Homo sapiens: one gene and its partner. Changing the gene in region 2 together with the main gene of any one other region gives a genetic interaction. Each region holds a gene or a part of one and is shown on either strand. Other genes may lie near its edges.

Evidence for each region. Genes that interact genetically often act in the same process or in processes that back each other up.
Region 1: of DUSP19 (region 2) and MAP3K5, changing one enhances a phenotype caused by changing the other (phenotypic enhancement), as found in Homo sapiens cells (one study listed by BioGRID).

Annotation. Positions count from the first base shown.
Region 1 is NC_000006.12:136,606,686-136,615,163, reverse strand, and holds part of MAP3K5 (mitogen-activated protein kinase kinase kinase 5), read left to right. Parts: intron 1-877; coding exon 878-1,005; intron 1,006-1,907; coding exon 1,908-2,044; intron 2,045-3,776; coding exon 3,777-3,882; intron 3,883-8,478. UniProt on the Homo sapiens protein: Serine/threonine kinase which acts as an essential component of the MAP kinase signal transduction pathway. Plays an important role in the cascades of cellular responses evoked by changes in the environment.
Region 2 is NC_000002.12:183,095,747-183,101,986, reverse strand, and holds the end of DUSP19 (dual specificity protein phosphatase 19), read right to left. Parts: 3' UTR 1,979-6,240; downstream 1-1,978.

The DNA of each region.
Region 1 (8,478 bases), on a different chromosome or scaffold from region 2:
AATTATGTTCTTTGGCAAGCTGTACAATAATTACATTAGGGCTACATTAAATTCAGGGTGGTTAAGAGTCTATAAAGCTTTACAGTACTTCCAATAATCATCAAAAGTGTTGTTCTGCTCCAGAAATATAAAATAACTTTTATAATTTGAATCAGCAACATATATCAAGTACATAATTTTGAAGTCACACTTTCAATGTGGAGGCTTCATGAGGATTAGGTAAAAATCATGATATAATAGAATTAGTGGATACAGTAAGGTGAAGATTTTGACGCAAGGGGCTCAAAGAGATTTGACATATGAGTGGTTTTATGTTTGCTATTGAAAAATTGACGGGCCTTTCAGGAAGTTCTGGAATGTACATTATGCAAGTTTTGTCTTCCTGGGCAAGAGTCTCCTGATTAATAGTAAATTGTAATAGTAAAGTTTTATAGTCAATAATAAAGTTGTGTTGATGAGGCCAGTGGAATAGAAAGTCATGTTAATATGTTAATATGGAGAGTAAACTGTGGACAATTTCCGTTCTCCTGGGTTTGAATCTTAGCTCTGTCACTTAATAGCTTTGGGATCTTGAGCAAGTCAGTCATCCTCTCTGTGAATCAGTTTCCTCATCTGTAAAATGGGCATACCAATACTACCTTCTCATGGAAATGAATTAATGTATACAACTGGCTTAGTACCTGACACATTTCCCCTCAGATCCTACCACACCTTCAACCTCATAGAATTTACCTTAGGAGAAATAAAGGCCTTAAGTGGTTGTTTTGGTTTTACATATGGACATATATTTGGCTGACATTTTCCATTTGTATTGTTTAAATTTATACAGTAAAGTCTGGCTACATAATTAACTCATTGACAATTGCATGTCTTTTAGATACTCTCAGCCCCTGCATGAAGAAATAGCATTGCATAAACACCTGAAGCACAAAAATATTGTCCAGTATCTGGGCTCTTTCAGTGAGAATGGTTTCATTAAAATCTTCATGGAGCAGGTCCCTGGAGGTAAGAGATATTTCTTTCTTTAAAAAGTGTGAATGTTTAGAGCTTCGGAGGGGAGTAAAATTGAATGGGATTTACTAGCGTACAGGTCTTAATCTGTCTAAACTGAAAGAAAAATTGGACATGTGACATTACCTCCAGTTTGTTAGGAGATGTCAACCATAAATGATGAGATTTAGAAAATATCCTAATGTATAGAGTTTATTCCAGTGCAAAGCTTGAGGATAGCCACCCAGGAAACACAGACTCCAAAAGAATGGGCCAGTGTTCCAAAGTGAGGAAGTTCATGTTTCACTTATATAAGCTGAAGACTAACAGGGTGGCAACATCTTCTACCCAAAGTCATTACATTTAAGTGGTTACAGCTTGCTGTATTCCAAGGCACATTATTTTAATGTTCCATAAGGAGGGGTAATGGTCTCGGGGGATCTTTTCTTTGGCACCATTCAGTCTTCTCCAATCATTTACAGGACAAAAATGCGGAAGAGATTTAGCCTATAATCGCAGAATCAGAAGTTACAACTGAATGCTATATGACTCAGGCCACAAAGTCACATTCCTTAAATAATAAGGCTCAAATAATTTAAAGTTCTAGAAGCTTTACATGTGAATTATGTAATTTCACAGAGACAATACATAAATATGGGAACCATTTCAGTATCTATCATCATGACTTGAATTAAAGTTGGCAATTGACATTGGCCTTTTACTTAGACATATTTGATTACAAGCATCTTTAGAGTAGGGATATTTGCAAATTCATGTTTGAGCCCGATATCCAGTATAGCTCCTGGGCCACTGTGAAGAACCAATGACTGTTAGCTTAAATTACTGTTACATTATTAATACACTTTAAAGAGCTCATTTGAATGAGGATTTATTTACTATTTATCCCTACTTTACAGGAAGTCTTTCTGCTCTCCTTCGTTCCAAATGGGGTCCATTAAAAGACAATGAGCAAACAATTGGCTTTTATACAAAGCAAATACTGGAAGGATTAAAATATCTCCATGACAATCAGATAGTTCACCGGGACATAAAGGTGAGGTACACCAGCATTCATTTTCATGAGTTCTTTCTTTGCTGGGTTATTATTTTACTTGCAAAAGTCATATTGTGTTATGAGTATTAATTTAGAATGGTGAATAAGTAAATCTTAGAAACAGCAGAAATATAAAATATCGTTCAACCCTGAATCAGTTATTTATGTTCATGTCTTAACGCTTCTGCTCAAGGAACACACTGCTTAACTGCGTTCAGCCAACAAGATTGTGCTCCCACCACACAATGTTTCCTAGGAGCTCTGTGGTGTGGGATGCAGCTGTCAAAAGTTAAACAGGAGATGGCCCCTGGTCCTGAGGAGCTTATAGGCTGGTTAATCTTTGTATCCTTGCCCATAGTAGCTACTCAGTAAATACTTATTGAATCAATGGATGAATGGTTAGAAGAAAAAAAATTCCTCTTTTCTCACAAGTATCACATATTCATTGATTTAACTATAATTATAAGGTATAGATTCTCTAAAATAAGCTAAAATAATAACTTTACATTCTCTTTTTAAAAAGAAAATTCAGAACTAATACATTTTTTACAAAGTCTGGACTGTTGAAAATAAGTTAATATTAGTACCCTAAAATCAACCAAAAAGCCCATTTATCTATCATGTCCCTACATATTCCAGGAAAAGAAGTAAAGAAACATAGAAAAGAAAGTAAGGTAACTGGAAAGTTATGAAAATCGTAATTTAATTATACATACATCATTATATATCTGTAAATAGCAACAAGCTCTAACCAATTAGGAATCATATTTGATCTTGTGATCTGAGTAGCAGATTATGAAGAACTTATAACCATCCAATGAGTTCATGTTGCCCACTGACCAGATAGAGCTGATTTCTCAAGATGTAAGAATTGCAATTGAGAAAGAGTTTAATACACATAGAGATGGCCAAACAAAATATTGGATCTTATAATTATTCAAATCAGCTTCTCCAAAAATTTAGAGGCTAGGGTTTTTCAAAGATAGTTTGGTGAGCAGGGGGCTAGGGTCTGGGTGGTTGGGGATGTAATTATAGGGGTGTGGAAAATGGTTCTTGTGTGTTGAGTCCACTTCTGGGTAGGGGCCACAGGACTGGTTGAGTCCAGAGTCACAGGTCTGGGTGATGCCATCTGATAGTCAGAAATGGAGAAGCCTGTAAAGACATCTCAAAAGGCCAGTCTTCAGTTCTACAATAGTGATGTCAATTATAGGAACAATTGGGGAAGTTGCAAATCTTGTGACCCCCAGAATAATGGGCTGATAATCATTTGACTGTGCCTACATCTTAGCGGACTTTAGGCCCCTCTCATCCTCCTAACCTGGTGGCCTTTCATTAGTTTTACAAAGATAGTTTAGTTTTGGGGAAGGGCTATTATCAACTAAACTATAAATTAAATTTCTCCAAGTGAGCTTGGTCTACACCCTGGAATGACCAAGGGCAGTTTGGAAATTTAAAGCAAGATGGTGGTGGTTAGATCAGATCTCTTTTACTGTCATAATTTTCTCACTGTTGTAATTTTCGCAAAGGCGGTTGGTTTCAAACTGATAATATGTAAACAAAAAATAGTGTCAAGAATGCACTATTGAGATAAACTATTAATGAAGAATACAGAATTAATGTCGTTGGTAGCTGTAAGGACACCTTTTTTTTTTTTAAATTGGACTTACCAAGTCAACAACAGACAGTATCTGAAGAAAGATAACAATTGTGATTAAAGTCCTCTGTTCTCTAGGGTGACAATGTGTTGATTAATACCTACAGTGGTGTTCTCAAGATCTCTGACTTCGGAACATCAAAGAGGCTTGCTGGCATAAACCCCTGTACTGAAACTTTTACTGGTATGTTTTTGCAATGATGATACAGATCTTATGTAATTAAAGAAATAATTGCTGAGTTTGAGCACAATGTGAGAGAGAAATTCAGTTGGTGTTCTCACACACAGTAATGTTGGTATCTTTTTTCTTTCTTTTCTTTTCTTTTCTTTCTTTTTTTTTTTTTTTTTTTTTTTTTTTGAGACAGGGTCTTGCCCTGTCACCTAGGCTGGAATGCAGTGGTGTGATCACCTATCACTGCAGCCTCAAACTCCCAGGCTCAAGCAATCCTCCCACCTCAGCCTCCTGAGTAGCTGGGACTACAGGCATGCGCCACCACGCCCAGCTAATTTTTTTGTATTTTTGATGGAGACAAGGTTTCACCATGTTGCCCAGGCTGGTCTCAAACTCCTGGGCTCAAGCGATATACCTGTGGCCTCCAAAAGTGTTGGGATTACAGGCGTGAGCCACTGCGCCTGGCCAATGTTGGTATCTTTTGATGCTCACTGAAAAATGTGTTACAGAATTTGATTTGGCCCTTTTCTCTTCCTGTATTTATATGACTTGCTTAGTTAGTCTCCTGCTTAATGCCACTGAAGATTTTTTTTTTTTTTTAATTCTCAACTTGTTACTTATTTTTCTTTTCATGTAATTACTTCTTTCCTGGTTGGCCTACAATAACTCTAGCAAGATTTTTTTTTTTTTTTTTTTATTAAACATTTCCTTGGCCCAACCTCTCTGTGATGCTTACTCATACCCTAATCACTTCCCATTTGGACGATGAATTCCCTCTTTTACTGTTTACTCTCTGTGGTTGACTCCCCTACTCCACAATATAAATAACCCTAGGATTTCAATTCAGAAGAGGAAGTGACTCACCGACTCAGAAGAAGGGAGGGAGAGAGCTTTCCTGAGAAAGTAGGCAACGCAACCACTGAGCTGCCTCTGGTGCAAAGTACTGGGAGGGTGGAGACCAAGTGATTTCCAAAAAGGTAACAGTAGCCAAGAGGAAGCTCAGACTCAAGAGATTCATGACTGCCCAACAGTTATAGGGAGGGTGTGTGAGACTTCAAACCTGATCTCCATTTAGTTCTTATCACTCCATCATGCTAATTCTCATGAAGTGTTAAGTTCTTCTTATAGAGAGAAATTTAGCAGGAAAAAAAAAAGGGTAAGGGGAAGGGAAGAGAAAAAGATCATGAATAATCTTTGGTCTAATATGAAGCAACATGGCCCCATCTCAATTCTGTGAGGTAGGTGGGAGTACCTCCATTTTGTAGATGAGGAAATTACCTGGGAGAGAAGTGACATTGCAGTCAGAAGTCACAGCAGTGTGTACCGGATAGAACTCAGACTGGTTTTTTGTTTTTGTTTTTGTTTTGAGACTGGGTCTTGCTATGTTGCCCAGGCTGGTCTTGAACTCCTGGGTTTAAGCAGTCCACCCACCCCACTCTCCTAAGTATCTAGGATGTCATGCCTGGCAAAACTGTTTTTTTGTTTTTGTTTTTTCTTTTGAGATGGGTTCTCGCTCTGTAACCCAGGCTGAAGTACAGTGGTGTAATCTCTGCTCACTGTGACCTCCCCTACCCCGGGCTCAAGTGATTCTCCTACCTCAGCCTCCCTAGTAGCTGGGACCATAGGCACGCACCTCCATGCCTGGCTAATTTTTTGTATTTTTGGTAGAGACAGGGTTTCACCATGTTGCCCAGGCTGGTCTCAAACTCCTGACCTCAAGTGATCCACCTGCCTTGGACTCCCAAAGTGCTGGGATTACATGTGCGAACCCCCACGCCTAGCCAGAACTCAGATTTTGTATCTACTGTTTGCTCTTTGCTTTTACCTTCTGGCTCTAGTCCATCTTTCTCTCTACCTTCCTGCAGGAGGAGAGAGAGACATTCTGTGTAAGTTTTTTCCCTAGAGCATTCAGTCAGCAATACCCCTGGCCCAGCTCCCACCTCAGGGCAATGGATATTTTAGGGTACAGAATTAAACACATTTTGAATATATTTTTTTGAAAAAACTAAATTCTGACCTATTAATAACTTCAAATGTCTTTACATTTCTTTCCTCTTACTCTTAACTTGGCAAGCAGCAGTTTCAGTGCTGTCAAGACTCAGTAATTTCTGAGAGGAAAATCCCTCGTTTCACACACTTTGTGGGACAGGATGTTAACACAGTATCTTCTGCTACTAATCTGGGGAACATCTTTTTTGTAAAATCTCCAAAGGAATTGTAGGAAAGCAGTCCTCACAGAGCCCTTTTCTTGGACCTCTTCCACTGGTGTCACGTAAGAGTGACGTGTGTCACTAACATGTATAGATCTGTCCCCAGCACCGGTCCCGAGGGCCCTGCACATCATAGGCTTCAAACGTGAACTTGGTGGTCACTAAGTCCCAGGTGGGTTAGTCCCAGGTGCTCAGTCAATAAATTGGTCTGCATCACCTTTTGGTGATTTTGATGAGGGAAAAGGCAGCAGTGATCACCATTTATGGAGTGCTTACTGTGTTACCTTGCTCTGCACTAAGTGCTTTACATATGTTGTTTTATTGAAATTCATACATCAGCCTTAATCATTAGGTATCATTATCCCAGTTTGTGGTGAGAAAATGAAGGTTCAAAGAGGTTGAATAACTTGCCCAAGGTCACAAAGCTAGTTGGTAATAGAGCTGAGACTCAAGCAAGACTTAACAGGCCAAAGGGAATTAATTATCTTCTCCCAAACCTGTCCCCGGCACACTCTTCTGTCCCAGTTGGCAGCCACTCCCGACATTGTTATCCAGGGCACTTCTCTTTTCTCACACTCCAACCCAGTCCGTCCACGAAGCCTTCAAAACATGTCCAACATTGGGCCGGTTCTCACCACCTCTGCTGCTGCCACTCTCATCGCTCACCTGCATTTTCGGTGGCTTCCCCAACTGTGCTCCTGCTTCACTTTTGCCCCCTACTGTCTACTCTCAGCACTGCAGCCAGAGTGATCCCTCTGAAACATAAACCAAGTCCTATTGCTCAGAGCCCTCAGTGGCTTGCTTTTTTTTTTTGTTCAGAGTAAACAAATGTCAGAACCCTCATAGTGGGGGACAAGGCTCTGACCTGATTCGGAGTCTGTTCCCTTTCAGACCCCATTTCCTACTCTTCTTCTGTTATTTACTCAGAGCCAGAAACGTGGACCTTCCTGCATTTCCTCCATGACAGCAGGCAGGGTCCCATCACAGGGCCTTTGCACAGGCTTTTCCTCCTGCCGCTACCCCAGCTGTCTGCATGGGTAACTTTCTTACCTTCTTCCAGTCTCAACGCAGATGTCCACCTCTGCAGTGAGACCAGCCATGAACACCCTATTTACCATGGCAGCCTTCCTGCTGATCCTCTTCACTCGGGTCTATATTTTTTTGGTCATAACATGTCACTTTCTAACATGCTGTATAATTTACTTACTGTGCTGATAATTTATCATCTGGCTTCTACTGCAAAAACATAAGCCCAGGTATTTCTATATGTTTTCTCCTCTGCTGTATTCTAAGTGCCTAGAACAGTGCCTGGCCCATAGTAGGTCCTCAGTGTGGATCTGTTAAATGAATGAGTGAATGAATGAAATGTGACATTAGAGTTTAATTAACCACTAAGCTGTACCACCTCCCTGGGTAGTTGCAGCAGCAAAGAAATTCTACAATAGATATTTCAAAGCAATTTTTTAAAAAAACTTTAGAATGCAGATATGTGAGGTATGAGTTTTAGAGCAAATACTCTCATTGATTTTACTTAAGCCAGTGTTCAGGTTGGCTCTCATCTTCATTATCCAGCTTCGTAAATTGCTTTGTTTAAAATATTATGTGTCATGTATTTGTGGAGTAAAAAGAGGAGCAGATAAGAACACATGACTCAACCTGTTTTTCTGGCACTTGCTCAGTGGGGGATAATTAAACACAATTGGCAGATGGTTATCTGACAAATCAAATATTGCATAATTTGTTGTTGACATTACTTGAATTGTCTAATTTACGATGTTTAAAAATTAAAAATTTCCAAATTTTGATCCACTATAACTCCCACTTAGCTATTAGTACAACTTAAATTCTCTCATTAATTCTATTCTAGGCCCCGAGACAACAAAAGGGGGTGGTAGGCTTCGATGCATTTTCGAAAAGACCATTTGAGCTTATTTAAATCATACAAAATTATCACTTGGGGAAAAGCTACAAATGAAGAGAAATCATACCAATTTTGTAGTAAAGGTGGGCGAGCGTCTTTGGGGAGCATGGTTGCCTTGTCTTTGGCCAGGTGAAAGGCTTTCTGAGAGCAGACATGTGCAGTTGTATGTTAGCGTGAACTACTGCTATGCAGTGATAAGGTCTGCAGGATAAACCTAGAAAGACTGCAATACATAACAAAAATGATACACTTTTATTTTTGTAAACAATAGTCCATTTCTCACCTATGATAGTGCTTTTCAGAGGAACAGTTTGCAGGAATTTTACACAATTGTTTTCACCTAAAACCATGCATGAGGCATTCCTAAAAGGTGTCATCTGTATTTATCAAAATGTCTGTCACTTTGGTTATGAATCAGAAAATCTGAAGCAGTTCTTTTGGCAAACACCTCATAATTTGAAGTAATTCAACATGGCA
Region 2 (6,240 bases):
GGTGAAGGGATATGAACAGACACCTCTCAAAAGAAGACATTTATGCGGCCAACAAACATGAAAAAAAAGCTTGTCATCACTGGTCTTTAGAGAAATGCAAATCAAAACCACGATGAGATACCATCTCACACCAGTTAGAATGGCAATCATTAAAAAGTCAGGAAACAACAGATGCTGCAGAGGATGTGGAGAAATAGGAACACATTTACACTGTTGGTGGGAGTATAAATTAGTTCCACCATTGTGGAAGACAGTGGGGCGATTCCTCAAGGATCTAGAACCAGAAATACCATTTGACCCAGCAGTCACATTACTGGGTATATACCCAAAGGATTATAAATCATTCTACTATAAAGACACATACACATGTATGTTTATTGCAGCACTATTTACAATAGCAGACTTGGAACCAACCCAAATGCCCATCAATGATAGACTGGATAAAGAAAATGTGGCATATATATACCATGGAATACTAGCAGCCATAAAAAAGAATGAGTTCATGTCCTTTGCAGGGACATGGATGAAGCTAGAAACCATCATTCTCAGCAAACTAACACAGAGACAGAAAACCAAACACCAAATGTTCTCACTCATAAGTAGGAGCTGAACACATGGACACAGGGAGGGGATTATCACACACTGGAGCCTGTCGAGGGGTGGGGGGTAAGGGGAGGGATAGCATTAGGAGAAATACCTAACGCATGCGGGGCTTAAAACCTAGATGACAGGTTGAAGGGTGCAGCAAACCACCATGGCACATGTGTACCTATGTAACAAACCCCCAAGTTCTGCACATGTATCCCAGAACTAAAAGTATAATAATAATCAAAAGGACACATTAAAAAAGAAAACTATTGGCCTACATCCCTGATGAACATTGATAAATACCCAAAAGAAAGGAAATTCATATATCAAAGAGATATCTGCACTCCCATGTTTATTGCGGCACTATTCACAATAGCCAAGATTTAGAAGCAACCTAAGTGTCCATCAACAGATGAATGGATAAATAACATGTAGTACATATATATAATGGAGTACTATTCAACCATAAAAAAGAATAAGATCCCGTCCTTTGGAAAAACATGGATAGAACTGGAGGACATTATGTTAAGTCAAATAAGACTGGCACAGATAGACAAACTTCAAATGTTCTCACTCCTTTGTGGGAGCCAAAAATTAAAACAGTTCAACACATGGAGATAGACAGTAGAATGATGGTTACCAGAAGCTGGAAAGAACAGTGGGGGCATGAGGGGAAGAAGTGTGATGGCTAATGGGTATTAAAATATAGCTAGATAGAATAAGATCTAGTATTTGATAGCACAACAGGGTGACTACAGTCAACAATAATTTATTGTACATTTTAAAATAACTATTACAAAGATATAACAGCCTGTTTGCATGAGCGTGGGAGGTGGGTGCCACACTATGTACAAATAATCTCAATGCAGTCATAGTTAGAATGTAGGGTAATTTAATCTGACAGTAACTCAGCATCTTCTCTTACCTTAAATAAGGTATTCTATTGAATTTTCATTGACAATCTGTCCACAGTGATGCCAATTATATGCTCTTACTTTAGCTTTTCTCTTTTGTGTTTTGAGACAGAGTCTCGCTCTGTCACCCAGGCTGGAGTGCAGTGGCGCAATCTCAGTTCACTGCAACCTCTGCCTCCCAGGTTCAAGCGATTCTCCTGCCTCAGCCTCCCAAGCAGCTGGGACTACAGGCGTGTGCCACCACGCCCAGCTAATTTTTTTTGTATTTTTAGTAGAGACAGGGTTTCACCGTATTGGCCAGGCTGCTCTTGAAGTCCTGACCTCGTGATCCTCTTGCCTCGGCCTCCCAAAATGCTGAGATTACAGGCCACCGCACCCAGCCGGCTTTTCATTTCTTGAAGAGACGGGAACAACAAATCTTCATAGATCTAAACTAACTTACATTTTAAAATATAAAATTGTGTGTCTTCCCAACATTTTTTTTTTTTTTTTGAGTCAGAGTCTCACTCTGTCAACTAGAAGTGCAGTGGTGCTATCTCGGCTCACTGCCACCTCCACCTCCCAGGGTCAAGCAATTCTCCTACCTCAGCCTCCTAAGAAGCTGGGATTACAGGCACCCACCACCATGCCCGGGTAATTTTTGTATTTTTAGTGATGGGGTTTTGCCATGTTGGCCAGGCTGGTCTTGAACTCCTGGCCTCAAGTGATCCATCTCCTTGGCCTCCCAAAATGTTGGGATTACAGGCATGAGCCACTGCGCCTGGCCACCAACAGATTTTTTAATTCAGAATTTGACAGCAAATAAGTGTTACATCTTTTAAAACAAATAGCTTCAAAGAAATATATTAATGGGAAAATATTAAACATATCATTTTTATTAAAGTATATCAACACCTAGAAACAATAAAGGGTACATGATGAATATGTATAAAAACAAGTAACTCAAAGCTTTACTTGAAATAGAAAAGTCTAACTATAAGTTATTTTTTGTGTGCATCAATTGAAACAAACCATAAGTTTGTTGATTATAATGTCATTTTATGCATTGCAAGAATATACAACTTCAAAGTCTTCTGGTTTAAATTCCTAAATAACTACAGGGTAACTAAATATGTTCAGGATCCTTCAGGCAGAAAAATCAACTATTTAGAGTCACCTGGAACAAATAAATAAGTAATCATGCCACATTTCTGTTGTTTTTAAATTTATCATGGTTTTGCTTATAAAGGTATTGACTCATTAGGTTAACTCTGTAAGATTATAAGATGATATTCTGATTTATACTTGCTACATTTATGACTACTTGGAGAAACAACACTTGAAGGGGACCTTCTATATACATTTGAACAATCTGAGTTACAAATAATCATGCTGACAAATTCAGGTTTCCCCACTACCACTGAAATTATCAGAGTCTAAGCTGAAAAAAAAAAATCCAAGTATTGTATTCATACATTTTAATCAAGGTTCAATAGGGAAGAAGGGAAGAAAAAGTAAAATTGCAAACAAAATGTTAAATACTGTACTCCACTTCCTCTGAAATATTTGTCTTTTGAATTAGTATACTGGTCTAAATTTTGCCTCCAAAAATCTAAGAAGAATATTGTTTGGGTTTTTCAAAAATCTACATACTTCTTGAGTGTTCTATTCAAATTTTATGTAATCAGAAACCTATTTTAAGGCATAAAATTAGAAAAAAATTTAAAAATTATTAACTTCAATTAACCTCAAATAAATAGAATTGTATTGTATGCTCCACTGCCTTTGTTCTACTCAGCTTTTTCAGTTTGCGGTTTAAAGCCTCCATATTTCTTTTCAATGTTTAAAAAGACATGCTGTTTTCATTTTCCCTTTCCTTTAAAAAATGGCAGAATAATCTATTGAAAAACAAAGAGGCAAAAACTCCTTGAACTATTTTTCCTCTCCTTTAAAACAGACCTATATTTGGTGTATGTATCTTTTAAGTTTGCAGTATGTGAGAAAGAGGACCGTAATCATAAAGTTCTTTTTTTAAAATAACTAGGAATGACAGAGTGATTTATCCCCATGGGAAGTGCAATAAACATATTGTATAGTATATATGACCTTATGCTTTACTTGGTGCCCCTAAAAGACTGAATTATATTCATTGATCTATTTTAATACAGCAAACTACAATTTAACGTTAAAACAAATTTGATGCTCAAAGCACTTCTGTAGAAGATACAAAAGATAAATGTTTGAATCTTACCCAGATCACTATAGGCAACAACTAAGCATATAAACTACAGACATAAATAATACACAATCCAGGCCAGGTGTAGTGGCTAACACCGTAATCCCAGCACTTTGGGAGACCAAGGCGTGTGGATCACTTGCGGTCAGGAGTTCGAGACCAGCCTGACCAACATGGTTGAACCCTGTCTCTACCAAAAAAAAATACAAAATTTGCTGGGCATGGTGGCACATGCCTATAATCCCAGCTACTTGGGAGGCTGATACAGGAGAATCGCTTGAAGCTGGGAGGCAGAGGTTGCAGTGAGCCAAGATCACGCCACTGCACTCCAGCCTGGGCAATAAGAGCAAAACTCTGTCTCAAATAATAATAATATCATTAAGAGCAAAACTCCATCTCAAAAATAATAATAATACATGAGCCATTATGAACAAATTCTATCAAGGCTTCATGTGACATTTAATGGCTGAAAACTAAACAGGATTTAGCAAAATAAAATGTATTTAAATACATCCTTTCTTATGAAAGGAGAAGGCTTATCCAGTGATACTGACCATAGAGAGAACCTATACATCAGTCTCATATTTAAGAGGGTTCTGCCTGCCTTGGTTGGCTTCAAAGAGCTCACTGTACGTTGATTATATTTAGACTGCTTCTTAGCAGAAGCAAAGAGTTTATAACAGTTCATAACATCACAAGTGATGGCATCTTGTCACGGTGTAAGCAATCTCAAAACATAACTTGCATTTATCACTTCTACTTTTTGCTCATGACAGCATATGAAAGCCTGCCTTCTCAAATGCACAGATGTGTTCAATATGCACTTTCCATCTATGCTTGCTCTTTATAATGTATATTTAAGAAGAGCTCAAGACTTTTAAAAATAAAACCTACATGGCAATGATATCTTCTAAGTCATGAAAAACTATGTGGAAACTATCAGGCCAGGCGTGGTGGCTGATGCCTGTAATCCTAGCACTTGGGAGGCTAAGGCGGGAGGATCACTTAAGCCTAGGAGTTTGAGATCAGCCTGGGCAACATGGCAAGACTCCTGTCTCTACAAAAATAAAAATAAAATTAGCCAGATGTGGTGGCGCACAGCTGTAGTCTCAGCTACTCAGGAGACTGAGGTGGGAGGACTGCTTGAGCCCAGGAGGTAGAGGCTGCAGTGCGTTGTGTTCATGCCACTCCACTCTAGCCTAGGTGACAGAGCAAGACCCTGTCTCGAAAAAAAAAAAAAAGAAAAGAAAAAAGAAACTGTCTTAATTAATTAATTTTAAGTATACCATATTCTGAAGAAAAAATCAAAATCTTTAAGCAAATTTATAATGTACAGAGCTCAGTTCTTCAAATACGGAGACATTAAAGAAAAAAGAACCTATTCAAAGGCCAAAGATAAAACTGTAAATGATTGTGGGTCTCCTAAAAGTATATTTAAAGTTTCTTACAAAACCATAACCCTTCTCCCCTAAAAAATATGTTCTCTGGTAGAATACTGAAGTAGAAAACAGACCACTAAACAATGATCTTGCAGTATCAAACATTTTCTCAAAAAATTATGACATAGGATCAAAAAAACAGAATGCTAGGCACCCAAGATAAAAAGCACAAAATGTAAGAGAATAGATCACCTGTTCAAAGAACCAAAGCTCACAATAACGTATGACAGAACACCTATACATTAAAAAAAAAAAGAAAGAAATGCCGATAACAGAATTGAAAAAAACAAAATGAGGTCGGATGCAGTGGCTCACGCCTGTAATCCCAGTATTTAGAGAGGCCAAGGTGGGTGGATCACCTGAGGTCAGGAGTTCGAGACTGCCTGGCCTATGTGGTGAGACTCCATCTCTACTAAAAACACAAAAATTAGCTGGGCATGGTGGCAGGCACCTATAATCCCAGCTATATGGGAGGCTGGGGCAGGAGAATCGCTTGAACCCGGGAGGCAGAGGTTGCAGTGAGCTGAGATTGCGCCATTGCACTCCAGCCTGGGTGACAAGAGCCAAACTCCATCTAAAAAAAGAAAAAAAAAGAAGAAGACAAAATGAAAAGTGTATATTTTTCATAAGAGAACATAAGAATTTTGTGAATATTGTAGCCACTGTGTAAATATTGTATAAACCTTCAGATACTGGTTATCTCTTTTGGGAGATTTAAGGTATTCATTTTTAATCTTAAAAAGATTCTTTAAAAAGAAATATACTTCCCTTTGAAATAGTAAGTTAAGTAGCATTTCAAGTTTTTCTTTCATAAAAACAGTTGCTGGAACAGAAAAATAGGCTTCATTAAATGATTCTCTCCATGCTCTAAATACACATTTTAAATTTAAACCTTTTTCTTCTACAGAAAGCAATGATTACTAACACTTTGTTATTTTCCCTTAGCAATTTAAAAAAGCATTTAATCACACATTATAATAACAAAGAGAAAGTAATGACATTTGAAATTTACTTATACAGTAGGTCAGGACAATCAAATTGACCTCCATTTATGCATAAAAAAGGCAAGAGAAAAAAGGGAGTT